Linked DNA regions of Homo sapiens. The protein of the gene in region 6 interacts with the protein of the main gene of each other region in a pairwise test. Each region holds a gene or a part of one and is shown on either strand. Other genes may lie near its edges.

The links.
Region 1: the proteins of TOM1L1 (region 6) and CWF19L1 interact in a two-hybrid assay, tested with the Homo sapiens proteins (one large-scale study listed by BioGRID and IntAct).
Region 2: the proteins of TOM1L1 (region 6) and UBXN4 interact in a two-hybrid assay, tested with the Homo sapiens proteins (one large-scale study listed by BioGRID and IntAct).
Region 3: the proteins of TOM1L1 (region 6) and CELF1 interact in a two-hybrid assay, tested with the Homo sapiens proteins (one large-scale study listed by BioGRID and IntAct).
Region 4: the proteins of TOM1L1 (region 6) and PDPN interact in a two-hybrid assay, tested with the Homo sapiens proteins (one large-scale study listed by BioGRID and IntAct).
Region 5: the proteins of TOM1L1 (region 6) and RAB18 interact in a two-hybrid assay, tested with the Homo sapiens proteins (one large-scale study listed by IntAct).
Region 7: the proteins of TOM1L1 (region 6) and GLUD2 interact in a two-hybrid assay, tested with the Homo sapiens proteins (one large-scale study listed by BioGRID and IntAct).

Annotation. Positions count from the first base shown.
Region 1 is NC_000010.11:100,243,639-100,247,138, reverse strand, and holds part of CWF19L1 (CWF19-like protein 1), read left to right. Parts: intron 1-203; coding exon 204-344; intron 345-1,225; coding exon 1,226-1,340; intron 1,341-3,361; coding exon 3,362-3,441; intron 3,442-3,500.
Region 2 is NC_000002.12:135,748,355-135,751,854, forward strand, and holds part of UBXN4 (UBX domain-containing protein 4), read left to right. Parts: coding exon 1-15; intron 16-3,500. UniProt on the Homo sapiens protein: Involved in endoplasmic reticulum-associated protein degradation (ERAD). Acts as a platform to recruit both UBQLN1 and VCP to the ER during ERAD.
Region 3 is NC_000011.10:47,546,633-47,550,132, reverse strand, and holds part of CELF1 (CUGBP Elav-like family member 1), read left to right. Parts: intron 1-3,500. UniProt on the Homo sapiens protein: RNA-binding protein implicated in the regulation of several post-transcriptional events. Involved in pre-mRNA alternative splicing, mRNA translation and stability.
Region 4 is NC_000001.11:13,614,832-13,618,457, reverse strand, and holds the end of PDPN (podoplanin isoform a precursor), read right to left. Parts: intron 2,554-3,626; coding exon 2,547-2,553; 3' UTR 501-2,546; downstream 1-500. UniProt on the Homo sapiens protein: Mediates effects on cell migration and adhesion through its different partners.
Region 5 is NC_000010.11:27,507,304-27,510,803, forward strand, and holds part of RAB18 (ras-related protein Rab-18), read left to right. Parts: intron 1-2,571; coding exon 2,572-2,627; intron 2,628-3,500. UniProt on the Homo sapiens protein: The small GTPases Rab are key regulators of intracellular membrane trafficking, from the formation of transport vesicles to their fusion with membranes.
Region 6 is NC_000017.11:54,910,852-54,914,351, forward strand, and holds part of TOM1L1 (TOM1-like protein 1), read left to right. Parts: intron 1-1,814; coding exon 1,815-1,964; intron 1,965-2,896; coding exon 2,897-3,022; intron 3,023-3,500. UniProt on the Homo sapiens protein: Probable adapter protein involved in signaling pathways. Interacts with the SH2 and SH3 domains of various signaling proteins when it is phosphorylated. May promote FYN activation, possibly by disrupting intramolecular SH3-dependent interactions.
Region 7 is NC_000023.11:121,046,245-121,050,409, forward strand, and holds GLUD2 (glutamate dehydrogenase 2, mitochondrial precursor), read left to right. Parts: upstream 1-1,365; 5' UTR 1,366-1,440; coding exon 1,441-3,117; 3' UTR 3,118-3,850; downstream 3,851-4,165. UniProt on the Homo sapiens protein: Important for recycling the chief excitatory neurotransmitter, glutamate, during neurotransmission.

The DNA.
Region 1 (3,500 bases), on a different chromosome or scaffold from region 6:
AACCCTTGGTGAGCCCCTGCAGAGGCCACTGAATTGGCATTTGATTTACTGTTTACTCTCTGAGCTATGGATGGGCTGGTTGCTGTTCTTTTAATTTTACTGAGTTTCACATGTTTTCTGTGAAATCTTCACAGTAAAATAGGTTGATTACAGTTGGGTAAATAGTATTTCCCCTAATGTCATTATGTTCTTTTTCTCTAAAGTATCTTTACGCGTTCAGTATTGTTCCCATGAAGCTAATGGATGCAGCAGAACTGGTAAAACAGCCTCCGGATGTCACTGAAAACCCTTACAGAAAATCTGGGCAGGAAGCATCCATAGGAAAGCAAATTCTTGCCCCTGTGGTATGTTCTGATTGAGGGTTGGCATTTTTATATGTGTTCTTTTCCTAGTTATAGTTTAGTACATAAGACAAGTTTAATCGTTAGAATCTAAATCTTTTTTTTCCCCTTGGGAAATCATGATGATGTTTAGAAAATCTTAGTAGATTTCAGCTAAGCTTAGTGTTTTTTATTGTAGTTTGGGGTTAACAGTTTGATACATTAGGTCTTTCTTTGTCCAAACTGGATTCAGACGTTTGGGGTTACAGTTTTATTTGTAAAGTCTTTGTCTAAAGTGATTATCTGTTCTTAGCTCTTTAGGCAAGGCTCTAGCAGCTTCATAGCAATGTAATTTGTGATTTTATGATGATTGCTAGTAGGAAAATAAGATTCACTCTGAAGAAATTTTCTTAATAGCAGAGTTTTCTCAAATTAATTTTTTCCCCACTAAAGCAAGGAATGTCAAGTTCCCTTACTAGCATGCACGGTCTGCTTTCTCAGACTTTTCTTTCTTTCCAAGCAGCCTTCTCATCTCTTAAGGCTGAATTAGGCTTGTTTGACCTGTGAAATTGTATGACTACACTATGTCCCTGTTGAGAGAAAAAAGAAAAGAGAATTTAGGTGGGTTCATGTTCTGCTTTAGGCAAGAATTACTTTATAACTTGCATTTTAACTCGTTTTTCCAAAGAGATGAATTTGGCAGTAGTTTGGATAAGTGTTGATGTATGACTGAGACTTCAGGCATCAGAACTGGGAAGATATTTTGCTTCCCTAGAGTGTGCAGAAAGGACTGAGAAGAAAGATAGGTATGGCATGGCAGGAATGTTCCCTTGTATGTGAGTGGTCGGCTACTTATCTAAAGGTTAGTTGAATAACATTTAATCTTCTGCTTTTGGCCATTCCAGGAAGAATCAGCCTGTCAGTTTTTCTTTGATTTAAATGAAAAGCAGGGAAGGAAGCGTTCATCCACAGGTAGAGATAGCAAATCTTCTCCTCATCCAAAGCAGCCTCGCAAACCTCGTAAGTACCTTTATTCCAGAGGTTTCTTCTATGAACAGTAACTGTTATTTTGGCTTTTCTTTGGAAAGCAGCATTGCTAAGAGAGCCTCTTCTGGCAGGGGAGAATTGTGCAATGAGTCATTAGGACCAACAGTAAAAATAAAATATAAACATGGCCTTGGCCAGGTGTGGTGACTGCACCATCTTATATTCCCACTGGCAATGTATGAAGGTTTCTGCTTTTCCACATCCCTGTCAACATTTGTTATAGCAATAGCCAGTTTTACAAGATAGCTCCCTCTTTTCCTGTCTCATAAATAGGTATGGTTCTCTAGGGGTGATGCTTTTATATACTTCTTGGACTCTGTATTTTTAGCCCATCTACTTGAGAGTGATGAGTTCCTTTTGCTAATTACCATTTAAAGCAATTTTCTTTGTCCTAAAAAGGCAGTCTTCTGTTGCTTATATACCCATATTGGGATAAAAGCGTTGATATTCTTGGCCAGGTGTGGGGGCTCATGCCTGTAATCCTGTACTTTGGGAGGCTGAGCCAGGCGGATCACAAGTTCAGAATTTTGAGACCAGTCTGGCCAACATAGTGAAACCCCTTCTCTACTAAAAATACAAAAATTAGCCAGGTGTGGTGGCACGGTCCTGTAGTCCCAGCCACTCAGGAGGCTGAGGTGGAAGAATTGCTTGAACCCAGGAGGCAGAGGTTGCAGTGAGCCGAGATGATGCCATTGCACTCCAGCCTGGGTGACAGAGTGAGACTCCATCTCAAAAAAAAAAAAAAAGTTGATATTCTTTTTATAGCTTCAGATTCAGAAACTAGAGCTTTATGAATTTTTATCTAGAATTATGTAATGCTGGAAACTGATTCACACTAACTGTAATCCCAGCACTTTGGGTGGCCGAAGCGGGTGGATCACTTAAGGCCAGGAGTTGGAGACCAGCCTGGCCAACATGGTGAAACCCTGTCTCTACTAAAAATACAAAAAATTAGCAAGGCATGGTGGCACCCACCTGTAGTCCCAGCTCCTCAGGAGGCTGAGGCATGAGAATCGCTTGAACCCAGGAGGCGGAGATTGCAGTGAGCCAAGATTGCACCACTGCACTCCAACCTGGGTGACAGAGCAAGGCCCTGTCTCAAAAAAATAAAATAACGGGCCAGGCGCGGTGGCTCACGCCTATAATCCCAGCACTTTGGGAGGCCGAGGTGGGCGGATCATGAGGTCAGGAGATCGAGACCATCCTGGCTAACACGGTGAAACCCCGTCTGTACTAAAAATAGAAAAAATTAACCAGGCGTGGTGGCAGACGCCCGTAGTCCCAGCTACTTAGGAGGCTGAGGCAGGAGAATGGCATGAACCTGGGAGGCGGAGCTTGCAGTGAGCCGAGATCGCGCCACTGTACTCCACCCTAGGCGACAGAGCGAGACTCCGTCTCAAAAAAAATAAAATAAGAATGGCCTGACTTCGAGGCTGTTCTGAGGCGCTTCCTGTACTATGGAAAAAGCACCTTTCCTTTGTGTCTGTAAAACATAATGAGGTGAAGAGCCTCCAAAACCAATATGGGTTCATAAAATAATAGAATGATCAAACTCGAAGGAAGGACTTTAAGAGTGTTTCATTGAGATTCTCTTTCTTCATCTTTTTGTTTCACACAAGAAGCTGACCTTGGGAGGGTAAATTTTCCAGGGTCATGGCTAATGGCATAGCTGGGGCTTTAATTGGGGCTCCTGACACCCAGTTCAGTGTTCTTTTGTTGTAGCCTATTGCCAGTTATGTGCTACTTTAGTCAGTGTGTGATTTTGCACTTGTGGGTTACCTACCTGTGGATTGGTTACAAATTCTAATGGAAGTTTAATTTCATTGAAAATGTTCATAGGGGGTCGTAGTGAGGAGCACAGGCTCAGCCCATTGTGGCAGTGTTGTATACCAGTCTTTTCAGGATATAAAAATCAGACAAAGCTGAGTTCTGTGGGGTGATTATATGCTGTAGTGCTTGGACCATAGTAACACCTGGCTTTCTTTTACATGAAGCTCAGCCTCCAGGACCCTGCTGGTTTTGCCTTGCTAGCCCTGAAGTGGAAAAACATTTGGTGGTCAACATCGGCACACATGTGAGTTACTTCCTTGGACTTTATAGAGAAGGAGATGCCTATTTGTTTTTTATTAACTT
Region 2 (3,500 bases), on a different chromosome or scaffold from region 6:
AATCGATACCAAAAGGTTTGTTTATGTTTTAATATTTTATTAATTTTAAAATTTATAAGTATTGTCTTTGATTTATAGTGATACTCTTGGACTAGAAGAATGTTGATGTTGGGCTGGGCACTCCCAGCACTTTGGGAGACTGAGGTGGGAGGATCGCTTGAGCCCAGGAGTTAGAGGCTAGCCTGGGCAACATAGTGAGACCCTGTCTCTATAAAAAATAATAATAAAATTAGGAGTGTGGTGTGTGCCTTTGGTCCTGCTACTTGGGAGGCTGAGGGGAGGATCACTTGATCCCTGAAGACTGGGGCTACAGTGAGCTGTGATCATGCCACTGCACTCCAGCCTGGGTGACAGAGTCAAACTCTGTCTCAAAAAAAAAAAAAAAAGAATATAGGCCAGGCACAGTGGCTCATGCCTGTAATCCCAGAACTTTGGGAGGCCAAGACAGGCGGATCACTTGAGGTCAGGAGTTTGAGACCAGTCTGGGCAACACAGTGAGACCTTGTCTCTACTAAAAAAAAAAATACAAAAATTAGCCGGGTGTGGTGGCACACGCCTGTAATCCCAGCTACTCGGGGGGCTGAGGTAAGAGGATCACTTGAGCCCAGGAGGTTGAAGTTGAGGCTGCAGTTAGCAGTGACTGCACCACTGCACTATAGCCTGGGCGAGAGAGCAAGACTATCTCAAAAAAAAAAAAAGAATGTTTATGCTATGTTTTTGGGTATCTAAGGCATATTAGGAACTTAAATTCTGACTGCCGTTTGCTAAATTCATCATGAATCCTGCTGAAAAAACTTTAAGCTTTCCTACTCTACCAAGCAGCCATCTAACATGTACCAGGAATGCAAAAAGAACAGTCATCTCCAGCTTCTAAAAACTTGGAAGTAATGGTAAATCATACATTGAATATCTCTGAGAGGTTGATCACTTACTGTCTTGAATCCTATTTTTGGGAATGGAGTCATTTAATCAGTGGAAATAAGGACATTTATAGGTTCCTCAAAGTACCTGATGTCCACAAGTCTATTTTGTTTCTCCGTTCCTCCTCCCCATCTTTTAAAAAAATTTTTGTTATAGGAAGTTTCAAACATATATGAAAGTAATGTAACAGTGTAATGTACCCCATGTACTTGTCTACTAGCTTTGGTAATTAACTCATGGTCAGTCTTGTTTCATCTATACCTCCACCCATTTCCACTCAATCCAAATAATTTTGAAACAAATCACAGTCACTGTATCACTTCATCTATAAATATTTTAGTATGTCTCTGAAGTATAAGTATTGTTAATTTTTTAAGCATAACTATAATATTAATACTTCACAAACTAATAATAATTCTTTAATATCAAATAACCAGCCAGTGTTCGACTTTTCAGTTGTCTCATCAAAGTCATAGTTTTATTACTTTATTGCAGTTTTTTAGTTCAAAATTATTCAAGGGCCACACATTAGGAAGCATTGATTTCTCTCAGTATGTAGGCTTCTCCTCCAACTCCCCTGCTCCTTGGAATTTATATTTTAAAGACACCAGGTCATTTGTTCTATACATTTGTTCTGTGGTTTCCTACAGTATGGATTTTGTTGACTGCAATGTGTTAGTGTCAAGTTGGTTCTTTCCTGTTTTCTGTATTGATAGGTAGATTCAGGTTTGTTTCCCCTCCCCTCATCCTGTCCTAAGACTACTTCATAGGTAGTGATGTGTCTTCCATCAGAAGACAGATAATACCCTGTTTTCTCTCTTTATGATGTTAGCAGCTATCAGTGATCATTACCTAAAAACATTATTATTTATTTTTTTCTTTGAAGCAGGATTTCACTATGTTGCCCAGGCTGGTCTTAAAATATTGGACTGAAGAGATCCTCCCATGTCAGCCTCCCAAATAGCTGTAGTTACAGGCATGCTTCACTGTGCCTGGTGCTGAAAACATTAATTCATTAGCACTTACAAAGTGGTATTCCTGTCTTTTTGATATTGATACTATCAGAATGAATAATGTGTTTGAAAATCACTGTCAAGATTAAAGCATTCAGAAATTTCTACTCGGGAGGCTGAGGCAGGAGAATGCTGTGAACCCGGGAGGCAGAGCTTGCAGTGAGCCGAGATTGCACCACTGCACTCCAGCCTGGGCAACAGAGCAAGACTCCGTCTCAAAAAAAATAAAAATAAAAATAAAAAAATAAATTCAGAAATTTGCCTATAAGTTTGTAAACTTTATGTAAAAATTTTCTGTGTTTACAAAAACATCAAGTCGTAGTATAGCCTGTCTCACAACAGTTACTGAACTATGTATTTACTGAGTAGTTTTTAAAAAACAGAATCTGTCAATTTAAGTATATCTTTTTTTTTTTATTGTTCATCACCTTCCTGAAGCACCTTTGAGAGTTGGCAGTGGCAAGAAGAATATAGGGATTTATAGGGAATGTGCAATACATGAGAATTCCAGAATTCTTGAGATTGTATACAGACTGATGTGTCTGGCTTTTTTTTTTTTTTTTTTTTTTTTTTTTTTTTTTTTTTGAGACGGAGTCTTGCTCTGTCGCCCAGGCTGGAGTGCAGTGGCGTGATCTCGGCTCACTGCAAGCTCCGCCTCCCGGGTTCACGCCATTCTCCTGCCTCAGCCTCCCGAGTAGCTGGGACTGCAGGTGCCCGCCACCATGCCCGGCTAATTTTTTTTTTTTTTTTGTATTTTTAGTAGAGACGGGGTTTCACCATGGTCTCGATCTCCTGACCTCGTGATCCGCCCGCCTCAGCCTCCCAAAGTGCTGGGATTACAGGTATGAGCCACTGTGCCCGGCCGTGTCTGGCATTTTTAAAAATAAATTACTTTTTTTTATTTTTTATTTTTTTTGAGACGGAGTCTCGCTCTGTAGCCCAGGCTGGAGTGCAGTAACGTGATCTTGGCTCACTGCAAGCTCCGCCTCCCGGGCTCACGGCATTCTCCTGCCTCAGCCTCCCAAGTAGCTGGGACTATAGGCGCCCACCACCATGCCTGGCTAATTTTTAAAATAGTTTTAGTAGAGATGGGGTTTCACAGTGTTAGCCAGGATGGTCTCGATCTCCTGACCTCGTGATCCACCTGCCCCGGCCTCCCAAAGTGCTGGGATTACAGGTGTGAGCCATCGTGCCTGGCCTTAAAAACAAATTTCTATTAGCAGATGCAGGGATACCTGCATATAGTGATGGTTCATGTTTGTTTCACTGTAGACTGCATGCTGATAGAATCTAGTGTGCCTTTAAATTATGGAAAATAAATTTTCTTCATTTCATAATAACTAAGTCACCCAATGTTTTGGGATCATTTTAGTGTGTATGTATTTTTGGAGATAGCGTGCATTGAAAATAGATTAGTAGGAAATGCGTAAAAAGTTTACAATTATTTCTGAAATGGTAGGATTTTGGGTAATTTTTTTTCTTGATTTTTTACTATGTTTTTAAATGTTTTTATGATAATAATGCTTTATATTTGAGGGAAAAAAGCAAATTCTAGTTCTTAGAAGC
Region 3 (3,500 bases), on a different chromosome or scaffold from region 6:
GGTTAAAAACACAAAATTGGCTGGGCGCAGTGGCTCACACCTGTAATCCCAGCACTTTGGGAGGCTGAGGTGGGCGGATCACGAGGTCAGGAGTTCGAGACCAGCCTGGCCAATATGGTCAAACCCCATCTCCACTAAAAATACAGAAATTAACCAGGTGTGGTGGCATGTGCCTGTAGTCCCAGCTACTTGGGAGGCTGAGGCAGGAGAATCCCTTGAGCCCAGGAGGTGGAGGTTGCAGTGAGCTGAGATTGCACCACTGCACTCCAGCCTGGGCAACAAGGCAAGACTCTGTCTCAGAAAAAAAAAAAACAAAAAAAACCCACAACATTTACTAACTTAGCCATTTTTAAGTGTTCTGTGACATTAAGTACATTCGCACTGTTGGAAAACAGATCTGTGAGTTTTTCATCTTGCGTATCTGAAACTCTATGCCTGTTGGACAACAGCTCCCCTTTTCCCCCTCCTACTAGCCCCTGGTAACCACCATTATTTCTGTTTCTACCAATTTGACTACTTTAGATAACATCATGTAAGTGGAATCATACCATGTCTGTTTTTTGTGACAGACTTATTTCACTTAGTGTAATGTCCTCAAGACTCATCCATGTTGTACTGTGTGACCGGATTTATTTCCTTTTTAAGGCTAATACTCCATTGTGTATATATATATATCATATTGTTTATGGACTGCATCCACTAATGGACTTTTGGGTTGCAGCTACCTCTTGGCTATTGTGAATAGTGCTAATGTGACTAGGTGTGCAAATAGGTATTCCAGCCTCTGGAACAATATCAGTTGTTTTGGATATATACCCCAAAGTGGGATTGCTGGATCAAGTGATAATTCTGTTTTTAATTTTTATTATTTTGAAAGAATCTAGGCCACTGGAATAGTGTTTTTTTATTTGTTTGTTTGTTTTTTGAAGAACCCCTATACTTTTTTCTATAGCAGTTGCACCATTTTACAGTCTTGCCAGTAGTACACAAGGGTTCCAGTTTCTCTACATCCTTGACAATACTTTTTATTTTTTCATGGCCATCTTAATGGGTGTGAGATACCTCACTGTGGTAGTTTTGATTTGTATTTCTCTGCTGACTAGTGATGTTGAGCATCTTTTCATATGCTTGTTGGCCATTTATATATTATCTTTGGAGAAATGTCTGTTCAAGGCCATTTCCCAGTTTTTAATCAAGTTTTTTGATTTTGTATTGTTGAATTATAGAAGTTCTTTATATTTTCTGGATTTTTTTTTTTTTTTTTTTTGAGATGGAGTCTTGCTCTGTTGCCCAGGCTGGAGTGCAGTGGTGTGATCTCTGCTCACTGCAACTTCCGCCCACTGGGTTCAAGCCATTCTCCTGCCTTGGCCTCCTGAGTAGCTGGGACTACAGTCATGCGCTACCACGCCCGGCTAATTTTTGTATTTTTAGTAGAGAGGGAGTTTCACCATGTTGGCCAGGCTGGTCTCGAACTCCCAACCTCAGGTGATCCGCCCGCCTCGACCTCCCAAAGTACTGGGATTACAGATGTGAGCCACCGCACCCAGCCTCTATTTTCTGGATATTAACCCCTTATTAGATAGATGATTTGCAGATATTTTCTCCCATTCTGTAATTTGTCTTTCACTTTGTCGATTGTATGCTTTGATACACAAAATATTTCATGTTCGATATAGTCCCATTTGTTTATTTCTGGTTTTGTTGCCTGCGCACTTGGTGTCATATCCATGAAATCATTGTCAAATCCAATATCATGAAGTTTTTCCTCTATATTTTCTTCTAGGAGTTTTATAGTTTTAGGTCTTACATTTAGGTTGTTTTAACCTTTTTTTTTGAGACGGAGTCTCACTCTGTCACCCAGCCTAGAGTGCAGTGACTCGATCTTGGCTCACTGCAATCTCTGTCGCCCTGGTTCAAGCGATTCTCCTACCTCAGCCTCCCGAGTAGCTGGGATTACAGGTTCCTGCCACTGTGCCTGGCTAATTTTTGTATTTTTAGTAGAGACGGGGTTTCACCATCTTGGCCAGGCTGGTCTTGAACTCCAGACCTCGTGATCCACCTGCCTCAGCCTCCCAAAGTGTTGGGATTACAGGCTTGAGCCACCGTGCCCGGCCCGTTTTAACCATTTTTAAGTGTATAATTCAGTGACATTAGTTACATTGAGGTGTTGTGCAATCATCACTGTGATCTTTCCAAAATGTTTTCATCACCGCATACAGAACCTCTGTAACCATTAAGCAATAACTCTCAATTTTCCCCTCCCCCCAGCCTCTGGTAGCCTCTAATCTATCTTTGTTTCTGTGAATTTTCTTATTCTAGATATTTCATGTAACTGGAATCATGTAATACTTGGCTTTTTGTGTCTGGCTTATTTCACTTAGCGTGTTGTTTTCAGGGTCCCTGCATCATTTTGTAGCATGTATCAGGACCTAATTTCCTTTTTTTTTTCTTTTTTTTTTTTTTGAGATGGAGTTTCGCTCTTGTCGCCTAGACTGGAGTGCAGTGGCGCGATCTCGGCTCACTGTAACCTCCGCCTCCCGGGTTCAAGCTGCCTCAGCCTCCTGAGTAGCTGGGACTACAGGCATGAGCCACCTAGCCTGGCTAATTTTGTATTTTTAGTAGAGATGGGGTTTCACCATTTTGGCCAGGCTGGTCTCAAACTCCTGACCTCAGGTGATCTGCCCGCCTCGGCCTCCCAAAGTGCTGGGATTACGGGCATGAACCACCGTGCCCAGCCCTAATTTCCTTTTATGGCTGTGTTCCTTTACTTCTTGAGGTCAGGAATGTCTCCTTTATTTTGCTATCTTCTCCTCTCTTGGAGTTCTATAAAGGTTCAATTGATTACAATTCATGCTCTTCATATGGATTGCCAATCACAGAGAGACGTCCACTGACATATTCAAACTTCTTGAAAATACAAATATGTCAGCATGTATAAAGTGGTCTATAACGATAATCCAAATCACTGTTTATAGCATTTTAAATTTCTAATCTAGTCAGATTTTCCTATCTTTGAATATACAGCATTTTCTTTCTTTCTTTTTTTTTTTTTTTTTTTTTTTTTTTTGAGGTGGAGTTTCGCTTTTGTTGCCCAGACTAAAGTAATGGCATGATCTTGGCTCACCACAACCTCTGCCTCCCGGGTTCAAGTGATTCTCCTGCCTCAGCCTCCCAAATAGCTGGGATTACAGGCATATGCCATGACCCCCAGCTAATTTTTTGTATTTTTAGTAGAGACGGAGGTTTCTCCAGGTTGGTCAAGCTGGTCTTGAACTCCTGACCTCAGGTGATTCACCCACCTCAGCCTCCCAAAGTTCTGCAATTACAGGTGTGAGCCACTGTGCCTGGCACAGCGTTTTCAAAAAATGTGTGCTGAAAAAGTATCACATGAAGAGGATAAGAATTGACAAGTTCCTGCCTTTGCTTTATACCTATAATATATGAATGGCTTTCTTAGGTGGACCAATTTCTAGGTATCTTATGTTGTGCACAGATAAATT
Region 4 (3,626 bases), on a different chromosome or scaffold from region 6:
ATCAAGACCATCCTGGCCAATGTGGTGAAACCCCGTCTCTACTAAAAATACAAAAATTAGGTGGGTGTGGTGGTGCACGCCTATAGTCCCAGCTACTTGGGAGGCTGAGACAGAATTGCTTGGGCCCAGGAAGTGGAGGCTGCAGTGAGCCGAGATCGCGCCACTGCACTCCAGCCTGGGCGACAGAGCGAGACTCCATCTCAAAACAAAACAGAAAAAATCAGGGAAAACCTCATTAACCCTTTGGGACCAGAGAGGGAGAGAGCCCCCAGGTGCCACGTGTCTCCCATGCCCATGCTTCTACTTGACCTCTCTACTTTGGCAGACCTAGCTGAAAGGTGTAGGTGTGTTTTCCTCCTGTGGAATTCATTCCCCTGGCCATCTATAATCCACTCTCAAGCAAGGCAACAGGCAGGCATTTACCTAAGTTGTAATCTTATCTGGAGATGTTCCCAAGTGTGGCCCAGACTTGTGTTTTCCAACAAAAGTCTGACTCATTGTTGTACACAATCATTTGTTTTATTTGAAAACATGTCTACACTGCATTGAGCACCAACACAGGTGTGACCAAGAAACCCACAGTCCTGTCCCCGCAGGCACTGGGTCCAGTGTATGACTTGGGGTGGACTGTTATTTTTCACAGTGAGGGGGGAAGAAAGGATAGGAAAGAAAAGATGGCCATTATCCCAACTCCTGTTCAGGAATCTGAACAATGAGTTATTTAAACTCATCCAGCTCTTCTCATTCCCCTTCTCTCAATCAGCTGGTGTTCAAATATGGAATCTGAGGCCGAGCGCAGTGGCACACGCCTGTAATCCCAGCACTTTGGGAGGCCGAGGCGGGCAGATCACGAGGTCAAGAGATAGAGATCATCCTCGCCGATACGGTGAAACCCCATCTCTACTAAAAATACAAAAATTGGCCGGGTGTGGTGGTAGGAACCTGTAGTCCCAGCTACTCAGGAGGCTGAGGCAGGAGAATTGCTTTTTGACATCCTGACACATGTATAATTGCCGGGAGGCAGAGTTGCAGACTACGTTTCACACACACACACAAAAAAAATGGAATCTGAGCTGGTGGGGCCAGCTGGATTTGGGAACACACAGACACACTGTTTAAAATAACATCCAGACATCATTGCAAAAAATGGGAGGAATGGGCTGTGCTTCCGAATGATAGTTTACTTTTTCCTGTTTTATGAATGCTTACAAATTTAGAGGATACCAGAATTGCACAACCGCCATCATGACAGAGCATCTGCTCAGTGTAAAAACTTTGTTTAGGAAAAAAAAAAAAAAATCCAATGGATATATGGGAAGAGAAGTGCCAGGCTGGATGGTGCTGAGACAGAATGACCCCTTGGGCTCCTTTATTTTGTTCTTTTCAACAGGACCCCACAGATATTTGCGGTATGTCATGAGGACTGGGGATGTCTTCTATTTTTAAATCAGGTATTTAGTCAAGCTGCTTTTAATATTAAGACTGTACAAATTGATTTTTGTTCCCTGTATCTTTCCTCAGAGGCAGAAAGTGAATGTTATAAAACTGGCAGATTTTATTTCTCATACCAGAGGCTCACACAGGATTTCTTTCTGCATGGGGGACAACTGGCTCTTGGTTTCAAACACACTTGAGCCTCTAGCACCATTAAGCATCCAGCAGCTTCCTCGGCATCCAGGCTGAGATATCCATATTCCAGAACAAAGCAGCCAATGTGAAGGATGTGCATCACTGGGAAGAGAGAAGGCTGCCCCCTTAGCCCTGGCTCCTCATCATCTGAGGGAAGTGGAGGGGGCAGGTGGGAGCAAGCTTAGAGTCACCAAGTCATGGCTGGAGAAGGATTTGGGTAAAGCAACTCTAGAGGCTGCCTGGTGGCCTACTTGGGAGAAACAAAGTGCCTTTGAGACTATCGACTTCCTGCTTGTGATCTAAAATGGATGTCTTTGAAATGATTAATCTGGACCAGCTAAAGGCAGTTGTTCACCACGTGTTATCCAAGTTTAGATTTCCTAGTTGATTATTCACACCAGATCAGGCTTTAAAAGATAGACCAAACTAGACCAGAATGTGTACATTTCAGCAGATCAGCAATTGCAAAATGCTGGTGCTATTTACTGACGTAGCACTGGATCCAAGGACTCCGTGGATATAAATATTTCCAGATTCCTCTGCATTTTAACAATAACAAGAATGGTCAGACGGAGACACATGGTTACAGCATATAATATCGATCCAATGGTCCAGTGTTAGTTACAAATCAGTTTATACAGTTTTGCTCCATTTTCTATGAATTTTGTCTTTCAAATAATCTTTTATAGAATGTATATTCAAAAACATGTTTGAACAGCAAATGTTTAGAGGAGCCAAGTCTGGTGAACGGTCTTTCCTTCGGTTATTTTGGCAAGCGGAGAGGTCACCGTGGATTCTGAGTGGGCCAGGCAAGTGTTCCACGGGTCATCTTCTCCCACGAGCTCAGGGACAGGGCACAGAGTCAGAAACGGTCTTTTTTTAAGCACGTTGGCAGCAGGGCGTAACCCTTCAGCTCTTTAGGGCCTGTGAAAATAGAGAAGGGTGACGGTCGTGTCTCTTACTGGCATTGTGAATAGTAACTCCGTGAGTCCTTTTTCCTATTGTCCTTTGCTCTAAATCTTCCAAGTTCTGACACCTGGTGATCATCTCTTGTTCCTGACATTCCTCCTCCATGCCTTCGTCCTCACACAGCAGGGTCAAACTGCCTGGCTTTTCCAAACACGCTAAGTCCACAGCTGTGTTGTCCCCTGTATCCCTCAACCCTCCAGGTGTTTATCACTTGTCCTCTCCCCTCCCTTCCATCATATATCATCCCTCCAACTCATATAAGAAAAAGGTTTTTGGCTGGGTGCGGTGGCTCATGCCTGTAATCACAGCATTTTGGGAGGCTGAGGTGGGTGGATCACGAGGTCAGGAGATTGAGACCATCCTGGCCAACATGGTGAAACCCTATCTCTACTAAAAAATACAAAAAATTAGCCAGGTGTGGTGGTGCATGCCTGTAGTCCCAGCTACTTGAGAGGCGGAGGCAGGGGAATCGCTTGAACCTGGGAGTCAGAGGTTGCAGTGAGCCGAGATCGCACTACTCCATCCAGCCTGGTGACAGAGCAAGACTGTCTCAAAAAAAAAGAAAAAGAAAAAGAAAGAGAAAGAAAAAGGTTTCCTCTGGCCATGAGTGTAGATATTCTGAATTCTTAAGGAAGCTTAATAAGGAGAAAAAACTCCTTCCCTTCAACAACAGTCAAAGCTAGGAGTCTATGACCACGTATGTGGGTGCACGCAGGGCAAGAGCGGAAGATCTCAATGAAAAAGACCCCATCCTCAGTGGAACTCCTAATCCGAATGGGCTGCCGACTCTGTGACAGGCGGTTTTCTAGAAGCCTTTTCTCTGATGGTTGGAGACGGGCTGATTAGGCATCAGATTAAAACTTGGTTTGGGTTTTCTTCCAAGTTCAGTTAGTTGGAAAATTAAAACAAGAGATCAAATGTGGTCAGATCTCAACAGAAGTCAACTTACAAGCCACCTCTGGCTCTGACTCTCTTATTTTGGAAATTTATAAGGTCTAAGTAGACATTTGTCCTTCTGGGGAAACTTC
Region 5 (3,500 bases), on a different chromosome or scaffold from region 6:
ATCAGGATTATGAAACTGGGGCTGCCACTTGTGTGACCTTGTGTGTGATACTTGAATGCTGTAGGCCTTCATTTCAAAAGCGAGGGGGTTGGAATAGAAACCTCTCAGACCCTAAATGTGTAAGACTCCAATTCTGTGGCTAGGCCTGGTAAGGTAAAGAGTAGCAGAATATATCAAGAACTGGAAGGGATTAGAGAGACCTATTATCTAAATTGCTGTCCCTCCTTTGCCCCTTGCCTTCCCTTTTTTTTTTTTTTTTGGTGAATTTCATATGTAAATTTAAAAAATGCAGATTAGTTATAATCACACTCTGTTTATTATAAATTTGGTCACATCTAAGTGCCATGGTGGTAGTTACTCCTTCCATCTCTACTTCTGCATGGGAAACATTTTGCTCCTTTAACTTTGAAAATATGAGGGTGTAAATATACAATACTATAAGAATGGTGCTTCTGCCAGGTGCAGTGGCTCATCCTGTAATCCTAGCTACTCGGGAGGCTGAGACAGGAGGATCTCTTGAGGCCAGGAGTCCGAGACCAGCTTGGGCAACATAACGAGACCATGCCTCTAAAAAAATAAAAATAAAAAAATTAGCCGGCCATGGTGATGCACACCTGTCATGCCAGTTACTTGGGGGGCTAAGGTGGGAGGATTAGTGAGCTGTGATTCTGCCACTGCATTCCAGCCTGGGTGACAGAGTGAGACCCTCTCTCTTAAAAAAAAAAAAAAAAAAGTGTGCTTCTTAATTATTTTGAGATTGTCAGTTCTTTTCAAAATCTAATAGAGAAATGGACTCTCTGTCCCTTTCAAAGTCTAATAGAGAAATGGACTCTCTGCCTAGAAAAATGCACACATAGAATTTAGAATACTTTTTGGGCTACCAGGGTACCCCTGTCTAAGATCTGATGTATACCCAGAGCCTGTATTAAAATTTGTTGCTTCACACCATGCCACCAATTCCCTGCCTCTCCTTACAAAGTACTGTTAATAACAAAGGCCATTTAAGGATTAGCAATTATGAGAGAAAAACCTCTGGCTTTGTGTCTGCACATTGCCATATGTTCAATAAATAATACCCAATATCATCATTATTGTATTATTATTATGATATTATTACAACTAGTCTACAAGGTAATCTTATGTTTTTGTAGTAATATTTTCTGTGGTGACCACGTGTAGATATTATGTATCTTTTCTTAAATTATGGGTAACTGAGTATGTTGGGAGAGAAGAAAAATTTTATAGGTAGTCTTTAAGAGTCTTACTAGTATTGTTACCTATGTTCCAAGTAACTAAATATAGTCAAGATGTTAAGTAGATAAATCTAGAATTTGACTCTTCTTTTTTACTTTGATTTTATGATGCTGGTTTTATGGTAAACACAAGAAAACAAAACCAAGTAAGGGAGAGTTAATCGTTCAAATATATTTAATGACACTGGGTTTGGAAACTACCAGGAGGCCATTATGTTTTGCAGAAACTCTATGGACAAAACATACCTCTACCAGCAATAATCACAACCTATAGAAAGAGTCATAAGATTTTTCTATAATTTAGATATCTGATGGCTGTTTCTTTGATTTTATTCATGCAAACAGGTCAATTAGGAGAGTCTTATACTTCAGAAGTTAACATGAGGGAAGATTGAATGACTTTAAAATCAAGGGCTTTAACAAAAGCTTAGATTTTATTTTTGAAGAGTTTCTAATAACTGACACTTCTGCTTCATAGTAAGTAAAATAATTCTGGAAGATGTAAAATCTTAGAGTACCCTTCTAATCTGGTGTCTTTTGCTTTTATCCTTTCTTTCTAGTTTCTTACCATTTCCTAGGTTTAGTCCTTTGTTCTCTCTTGCCATAACCATGGCGGTTGTCTTCCATTGATTTTCTTCCATTTTTTGTTAGTATTAACTTTTCAAAACAAAGAGCAGTACTTGTCTTAACTTTCTTTAAAAGCCTCCAGTAGCCTCCAGTTGCCTACTTGGTTTTACACACTCTACCTAGTGTTTGCCCGAGTCTATCTACTCTGTCCTGTGATCTTTCTTTTAACCTCTCTTTTTACTGTATCTTCTCTTAGGTAGTAGCCGTACTGCGTGTTACAGAATGCTCGGCTTTGATATATTTCTGGTTTTGCTTGAATTCAGAGTGGATTACACAATCAGATTTTTTAAAGCTAGTTTGTTGCATTCTAAGAGACTTTATTTTTTCCCTTTTCATCTATGTCAGTTAAAGCATGACATGCTGCTAATATCATTTTCTCAGAAGGACATACCAGAACAGTTAAAAAACAACTACAACAAAAACCCCCACCTTTTGTACTTGGGGGATTGTGTAGGAGAGCACGGGGAATATATTTCATAGTAAACTACTTTGCTCTTGGGATTTTTAAATTGCCTTTCTGGTAATTTAATTTTTCTGTGTATACCTGCTCTGAGGCAGTATTCCTAGGAACAGGCCTACATCAGTTATTTTTATCTGCATCTAATAATTTGTGACCAAATAATCATGAACACATTTATCATATGATTAGAAAATTCAAGTTCCCAACCTGTCTTTTTAATATCTCTTTCAGCCTGCTCTTGAGGTTCACAGATGATACGTTTGATCCAGAACTTGCAGCAACAATAGGTAAGCCTGTGTTTAAAAATTCTATAGAAATGGCCAGTATTTTCTTGCCTTTGGCCTTTTTAATCTAAATCCTTCTACCTTCCTCTCACCACCCCACTGCCTCCATGTCTGTTGAAATCTTATTTGTCCTTCAAGACTTAATTTTGGTATCATTAAATCTTTGAAGCCTTTCTAGATCTTACCAAGAGAAAATAACTTCCTTATCTGTTGTCTCATGATACTTTATTAAAACTGCTAATGTGATTATCTGTACACACATTTCTCTCCTATACTATGGATTGTCTTTTATTTTGTAATATACAACAGTTATTTGAATACTTATTGTATGCCAGGGACTGCTACTAAGAGGAGGGGTTATAATAGTGAATAACAAACTTGGTCTCTGTCATCGTGGACCTAACAGAGTGTGTTAATTTTGTATGTTCAGCATTTGCTACAGTGTTTGACGTGTATTCTTATCTTCACATATGTATTGATACTAGTTATTAAGGATTGTTAGGAGCAATGATACTTAAATGCCTTTTAAGGATAAGATTTAGATCGCCTGAAAGTGGTTAGTCACACTAACTTATGAGAATATATGAGAAGATAGAGGTAAGTATTTTGGTATCATGTGTTTAGACTGCAGACAACGTAAAGGGATGAAGAGACCACTTGGAATAGTTGAAAGGTAGCTGAGCTGAGTCAGAGCTAGATAATAGTCTTGGTTGACTTTGCCTTGAATTACATGTAATCTTGATGAAGTCACTTAACTTACTAACTTCATCTGTAAATTGGGAGGTTTTGTTAAAATTTCATGATCTGATGAGGAGAATATAGTAAAGATGATCCTAGCATTATTGTTAGGGAAAATAAAGAGTTTCTGTTAACTGG
Region 6 (3,500 bases):
TTAAACGCTATATGCTGCCGCTTTATGTATTGCCATTAAAGAGAGACTAAAAATACAAAGCATGGCATGAAGTCCATTTTCAGGGCTTCTATTCTGCAGAGATGATTATACCTATCCTGGTCATGCTATGGTTTCTATGACCTTTCTAATTTGAGGTGGTAGCATGGAAACTAAAGATTTAATTTTGTTTTTAGTTTACTTTTAGAAATCTACTTCCTGCATGCAGTTCTTCAGTATTGGTTCATTCTTTCTTAGTCAAGTTTCTGCTCATGTTGCTTTATTGCAAATGTGTTTTTCAAGGGAACTGATGTTCCTCAGACCATCTTCTTAACTGTATAACACCCCATCCTCCAGGAAACTTTTCTTTTGACTTTACCAAAGGGGTGCCTTATGTATTCCTGATTTTGTGCTTCATTTTCTGTCAGTTACTCTTTGATTGCCTTCCTTGGATTTTCGTTGGCCCGTATAGTAGGTGAACCCCAGTGTTTCAGCCCTTCCTCTTCTCTTCTCATTGTAGGCAGCCTTGATGACTCACTTTTGGCCCTTCACTCTCTTGAACTATAGCTGTGTGTGTCCAGCTCACTGCTAAACACCTACTTAAATGCCCCTTATCTTTTGAACTCAAAATATCTAAATTTCAGCCCATCATTTTTACACCTAGACCAGCCATACCACCCCCTCTTCCAAATTTCCGTCACAGGGGTCCTCATGCAGAATGAGAGTCACTTAACTTTCAGTCATCTTCCTTTTTTGACCAGCACTGTCATTCAAAGTTCTTCCTTCATAATGGTGTCATGACTCCTCCTTTTCTTGTACCCACATCATCTTAGTTTAGGCCTTTTCTATAACATGCCTGAAATAGTGCATTGCTACTGGATCTTTCTATCATTCCAGGTTTCTTCTCCCTCCGCTTGCCTTTGCAGAGTGCTGCCTGACAACCTATCCAGAATATTACTTTGCACACATTAACCTTTTCCTCAATTTCAGGGTACAGGTGTGATGGTGACAAACTAACAGAGACCCTCCATAACTTCATAGTGCCTTCAAGATAATATCCACACCCTTTGCATGCCACACAAACTTCTCTACAACCTGGACGGACTTTATCCACCCTATCTTTCCAGTGTCCCCAATTTACCTATATCAGGATGCCTCTACTAGAGACAGACCAGAATACTTATCTCCCCCTTCATAACTTACCCATTTTTCCACATTTATATATTTTTCATACAATTTATCTGTCTAGAATATAGCTCTATACTCATTTTTACTGTTCTTAGCCATTTTGCAAAGCCCAGCTTCCAGTTAGCCTTTTCCAAAAGTCTTGTAAGACCACCTAGCCCTAAATAATCACTCTTGCCTATAAGGGCCTATAGCTGGGGTGACTGTGTAATTTATCATCCAAACCAGGACATTTTTGAAAGTGAAAGGGTGTGTCATCATTAATAAACAGGACATTGGGAATATACCTGTGCTACCCTGGGTAAACTGGGACAGATATTATTCCATCCATAGCTCATATGTTTGGCCTGCACGTCCCTTCAGCATTTAGCATTTAGTACTCTGCATTGGTGTTAATGCCCTTCTGGATGTGCTGGGACTCCTCAATAAGTCTGTCCTCCAGACTGTTACATTATGCTCATACTTCCACATATCCCCAGAACCTAACATTTTGCCATATATTTTAGTAGATACTAAATTATGTTTGTTAATTAGGATGCTGATGGAACCCATTATTTAGCAGTTTTTCCCTTACATTTTTAGGAGGTGGTTTTGCCAGATAAATATAATGTTTAATTTTTTTTCTAATTTAGCTTATTGACATGTGTGTGCAGAACTGTGGTCCAAGTTTCCAGTCTCTGATTGTGAAGAAGGAATTTGTTAAAGAGAATTTAGTTAAGCTACTGAATCCCAGATACAACTTGCCATTAGACATTCAGAATAGAATCTTGAATTTCATTAAGGTAAGTCTGTTGTATACCTCATGGGATGGTAAATTTCTAAGATTAGGGATTTAATAGCTTACCTCCTGATTGTTTCACTTATCTTTTATATATCTAGGATTGAGCTAGAAAAGCATTTTTGCTATTTTAGTTTCTGTGTAATAATAATTTTTTGGCATTGGATGGTGCCCTTTTTCTGAAGAATTTGTAGTCATTTCCCTGCTTTCCTCTCAGTTTCTATTTTATCTGTGTCAAATAGGAAAGACAGTGATCTGTGTGTTCACTTTGCAGGTAGGGAAACTTCCAGCTAACTGACTAGTTCAAGGTTACTTGGAAAAAGAGCTACTGATGTTATTTTAGAATCTATTAATTTTGGATTCAGAGCAGCAAAAAACAATTGATAGTATATATCCTAGGGTTTCTTCAAGATTTTGAGGCATGGAAATCTGATTTAAAAGATTTTATATTTTCCTAGCCTTTGAAAATGAGCATTTTGCCCATGGCATTCAAAAGTAGCTTTCTCTTTCTGAGTGGGGTACATAATTATTGATCTCTTATTTTCTATCAGGAGCTTAAGAATTGTGTTTTCGGCTGGGTGCGGTGGCTCACGCCTGTAATCCCAGCACTTTGGGAGGCCGAGGTGGGCAGATCACAAGGTCAGGAGTTCGAGAGCAGCCTGGCCAACATAGTGAAACCCCGTCTCTACTAAAAAATACAAAAAGTAAGCCAGGCGTGGTGGCGGGCGCCTGTAATCCCAGCTACTCAGGAGGCTGAGGCAGGAGAATCGCTTGAACCCAGGAGGCGGAGATTGCAATGAGCAGAGATTGTGCCATTGCACTCCAGCCCGGGCAATAGTGTGAGACTCTGTCTCAAAAAAAAAAAAAAAAAAAAGAATTGTGTTTTGGTTTTGTTGCTGTTTTAACTCTGGAACTTTTTTCATCTCTTGAATTCAGACTTGGTCACAGGGCTTCCCAGGAGGTGTGGATGTAAGCGAAGTCAAAGAAGTATACCTCGACCTGGTTAAGAAAGGCGTTCAGTTTCCTCCCTCAGAAGCAGAGGCTGAAACAGCAAGACAAGAGGTAGGAGGCCTTTCTTTGACCCATGGAGACTATAGTAGTGTATCACTTGGGTCTTTTCTCATTACAGGAGACAACCCTAAATCCACCCAGCTTAAGCAAAAAGATGAAGTTATTAGAAGGATATTGCAATATCTCATAGAATAACCGAGACTTGGGATTTTGCTACTTAAAGTGTGTTTTGCTACTAAAAGTATGAAAGTTTGTTTGGCATGTTCCACCCTAGACTAATCAGAACCTCCCTTTTTACAAGATTTCCAGGTGTTTTCTCTGCACATTAATGTTGAGAAGCACTGGCCTAGAGCCTTGAGCTTTCACCTCTCCACCCAAGGTTGGAGATGTGGCATTGACCCAAGGAGGGTCATTGATGGAGAAGGAGATGCCTTGTCAGCTGTGGCTTAAAAGGACTTGACATGAATTGAGCTACCATTTGTTATTAACAACCCAAAGAGAAGGCATCAATAATCTCACATGGCAGTTT
Region 7 (4,165 bases), on a different chromosome or scaffold from region 6:
TCTTTTGCCTCACTGGTTAAATTTATTCCTAAGTACTTTACTCTTCTTGATAGTATTGTAAATTGAATTGTTTTATTAGTTCCCTTTTTAGATATTTACTTCATAGCATATAGGAATGTAGCTGATATTTTTGTGTTTATTTTGTATTCAGCAACTTTGTTGAATTTGTATATTACCTCTGTGTATGTGTTTGTCTCCCTCTCTCTCCCTCTGTATAATATTTGGCGTTTGCTACACATAAGGTCATGCCATACGTGAACAGAGGTAATTTTACTTTTTTTCTGTTTTTTTTTCTTTCTTGCCTAATTCCTCTGATTAGAACTTCTAATACTATGTTGAATAAAAATGGCAAATGTAGGCATCTTTGCCTTGTTCTTCATAATAAGACATCCTGTGATTTTTAACATGCATTATGTTGTATGTTTTGGCAGCATTGTTGTTTTTCTTGCAAATAATTTAATAGTTTAACTCAAAGCTTCTAGGATGCTTTCATGTTGTTAGGTGAATCATTCCATGACTGCCGAATAAGGAATTTTCCAAGTGAATCTCAGAAATTTGTGTTTTAATAAGTGCTTCAGGTGATTCTGTTGCATACTCAAGTTTGAGAACCATTGTCCAAGGGGCAAAAGCTGCCATTGCCAATTGCTCTTTTTTATCTGAGAGGGGGCAGGATCCTCCTGGTCCACTGCTTGTGGATGCAACTTATTAAATGAAATAAGGCCATGAGTACTCTAGGGCCCAATCTCTGCTTTTTGTTTTGTTCACTCCTGTTTAAAATTTCACTCAGGGCTCTCTTTGGAAGAATTGCACTTACCTTTGCCATCCGGGGCTGAGGTTTCATTTTCTTTGGTTATTCCCCAGGCCAGTACCATTTGCTTTTTACTTTCCAGAAGTTCTGTAAAGATTGTTGATGGTACCCTTTCTTAGCTTTTTTTTTTTTTTTTGGTCTTGATATAGTCCTATTCTTCTAAAAAATCTTTTCATTTGTCTCCGTCAGACTTTGATGGAGAGGAGGGGAGATATTGTTTACATTTGTTAAAAATGGCTTTTAAGTTAAATTCTAACTAAGGGTCTATTAGGAAATAAAATTGCCTTCTGACTCCTTTTGATTTATTTTGCAGAATTGCATATATCCAAAGCTCTGGGTAATTATTAAACATTAGAAGTATAGAACAAACAGGCCAGCCAGGCCCGGCGAGGCCGCGGCGGGTCCGGCGCCCCGGACCTCCGGACCCGGAGGTCCGGCGCCCTGGTTGGCGCCCTGCCCCCAAAGTCCGTCCTCCCCGTTAGGTGGCGCCCAAGGGGAGGGGACAGCCGGGCAGGCAGGAAGCTGCGGCTTAAAAGGGCAACCCGCGCCGGACCCTTCCTTCCTAGTCGCGGGGAGTCTGAGAAAGCGCACCTGTTCCGCGACCGTCACGCACCCCTCCTCCGCCTGCCGCGATGTACCGCTACCTGGCCAAAGCGCTGCTGCCGTCCCGGGCCGGGCCCGCTGCCCTGGGCTCCGCGGCCAACCACTCGGCCGCGTTGCTGGGCCGGGGCCGCGGACAGCCCGCCGCCGCCTCGCAGCCGGGGCTCGCATTGGCCGCCCGGCGCCACTACAGCGAGTTGGTGGCCGACCGCGAGGACGACCCCAACTTCTTCAAGATGGTGGAGGGCTTCTTCGATCGCGGCGCCAGCATCGTGGAGGACAAGTTGGTGAAGGACCTGAGGACCCAGGAAAGCGAGGAGCAGAAGCGGAACCGGGTGCGCGGCATCCTGCGGATCATCAAGCCCTGCAACCATGTGCTGAGTCTCTCCTTCCCCATCCGGCGCGACGACGGCTCCTGGGAGGTCATCGAAGGCTACCGGGCCCAGCACAGCCAGCACCGCACGCCCTGCAAGGGAGGTATCCGTTACAGCACTGATGTGAGTGTAGATGAAGTAAAAGCTTTGGCTTCTCTGATGACATACAAGTGTGCAGTGGTTGATGTGCCGTTTGGGGGTGCTAAAGCTGGTGTTAAGATCAATCCCAAGAACTATACCGAAAATGAATTGGAAAAGATCACAAGGAGGTTCACCATGGAGCTAGCAAAGAAGGGCTTTATTGGTCCTGGCGTTGATGTGCCTGCTCCAGACATGAACACAGGTGAGCGGGAGATGTCCTGGATTGCTGATACCTATGCCAGCACCATAGGGCACTATGATATTAATGCACACGCCTGTGTTACTGGTAAACCCATCAGCCAAGGGGGAATCCATGGACGCATCTCTGCTACTGGCCGTGGTGTCTTCCATGGGATTGAAAACTTCATCAATGAAGCTTCTTACATGAGCATTTTAGGAATGACACCAGGGTTTAGAGATAAAACATTTGTTGTTCAGGGATTTGGTAATGTGGGCCTACACTCTATGAGATATTTACATCGTTTTGGTGCTAAATGTATTGCTGTTGGTGAGTCTGATGGGAGTATATGGAATCCAGATGGTATTGACCCAAAGGAACTGGAAGACTTCAAATTGCAACATGGGTCCATTCTGGGCTTCCCCAAGGCAAAGCCCTATGAAGGAAGCATCTTGGAGGTCGACTGTGACATACTGATCCCAGCTGCCACTGAGAAGCAGTTGACCAAATCCAACGCACCCAGAGTCAAAGCCAAGATCATTGCTGAAGGTGCCAATGGGCCAACAACTCCAGAAGCTGATAAGATCTTCCTGGAGAGAAACATTTTGGTTATTCCAGATCTCTACTTGAATGCTGGAGGAGTGACAGTATCTTACTTTGAGTGGCTGAAGAATCTAAATCATGTCAGCTATGGCCGTTTGACCTTCAAATATGAAAGGGATTCTAACTACCACTTGCTCCTGTCTGTTCAAGAGAGTTTAGAAAGAAAATTTGGAAAGCATGGTGGAACTATTCCCATTGTACCCACGGCAGAGTTCCAAGACAGTATATCGGGTGCATCTGAGAAAGACATTGTGCACTCTGCCTTGGCATACACAATGGAGCGTTCTGCCAGGCAAATTATGCACACAGCCATGAAGTATAACCTGGGATTGGACCTGAGAACAGCTGCCTATGTCAATGCCATTGAAAAAGTCTTCAAAGTGTACAGTGAAGCTGGTGTGACCTTCACATAGATGGATCATGGCTGACTTCCTCACTAACCTCTTCACGTGTAACTTCTGCAGACCTACCACAAGTTTACATGTAACCACAGAAATCCCTTTCTCTCCTGACTCATTACTAATGGATACCATTCTCAACAAGTCAATCCAAATCAGCCCGTTAAGGAGAAAGAAATTAATATACAAGCTGAGTGTGAAAGTAGAAATCACCTACACCAGAGAGCTATTTTGGTATTTTGCCTTTAAATAAAAAGCCTCCTCCATATGGCTGTGCAGCCTTGCTCTGTGGCTTTTCCCAGCACAATCAGTGCTAGTGCTGGGGAAGGGACAGTCAAGAGCAGTCAGTTGCTTACTTATTTTGCTCTGGATGAGTCTGGGACACGCTGTAACTTTAACACATTTAAGAAGAAGGTGTGTGGCCTTTTCAGAAGGTGGCATGGTCCTCAAGTGAGTTCTTAGTATTTTATATCAGCAAAATAACTCAATTTTGCAGATTGCAAACAAATATAAAAGCTGTTTCTGTTTATGAATTTTATTCTTTTAGAATAGAATAAGTACATGCTGCTGTAATAAAATTGCCTTTAATCACTTAACAAGCCTAACCTTGACTCAGTGAATGCCTATAAAAATAATAAATGAAAAAAAACAGTATTTTTATATCATAAAAGTTTCATTTGTAGCTTATCATTCACGTATTGTTGTCCAGCAAACATTAAAAGCCCTGTGGATAATTACGTTATCTTCATACCTGCAAAACGGTGGAGGCTATTTTCGTTAAAACTGTCAGAATTCGCTGTTATAATTATGACACATAGTCCAAAGAATGCAGTAACCTTTTTATCATGTTAACTAATTGTTCTCTTTTGAAGATCTATGGTTGACTAATTAAACAATAATTCAAGTAGAGTGTCCCAGAAAAAAACCACTTGGGCTCCCTGTTTGGAGTCTGGCTGGCTCTGAGCATTGCCAATGGCCCCTACTCACCTGACTTTGTATCCTCTTCTTTTAGAGGCTTTGCATTCTGCACCCAGCTTCACTAACAGTGGGCTGAAACCAACCT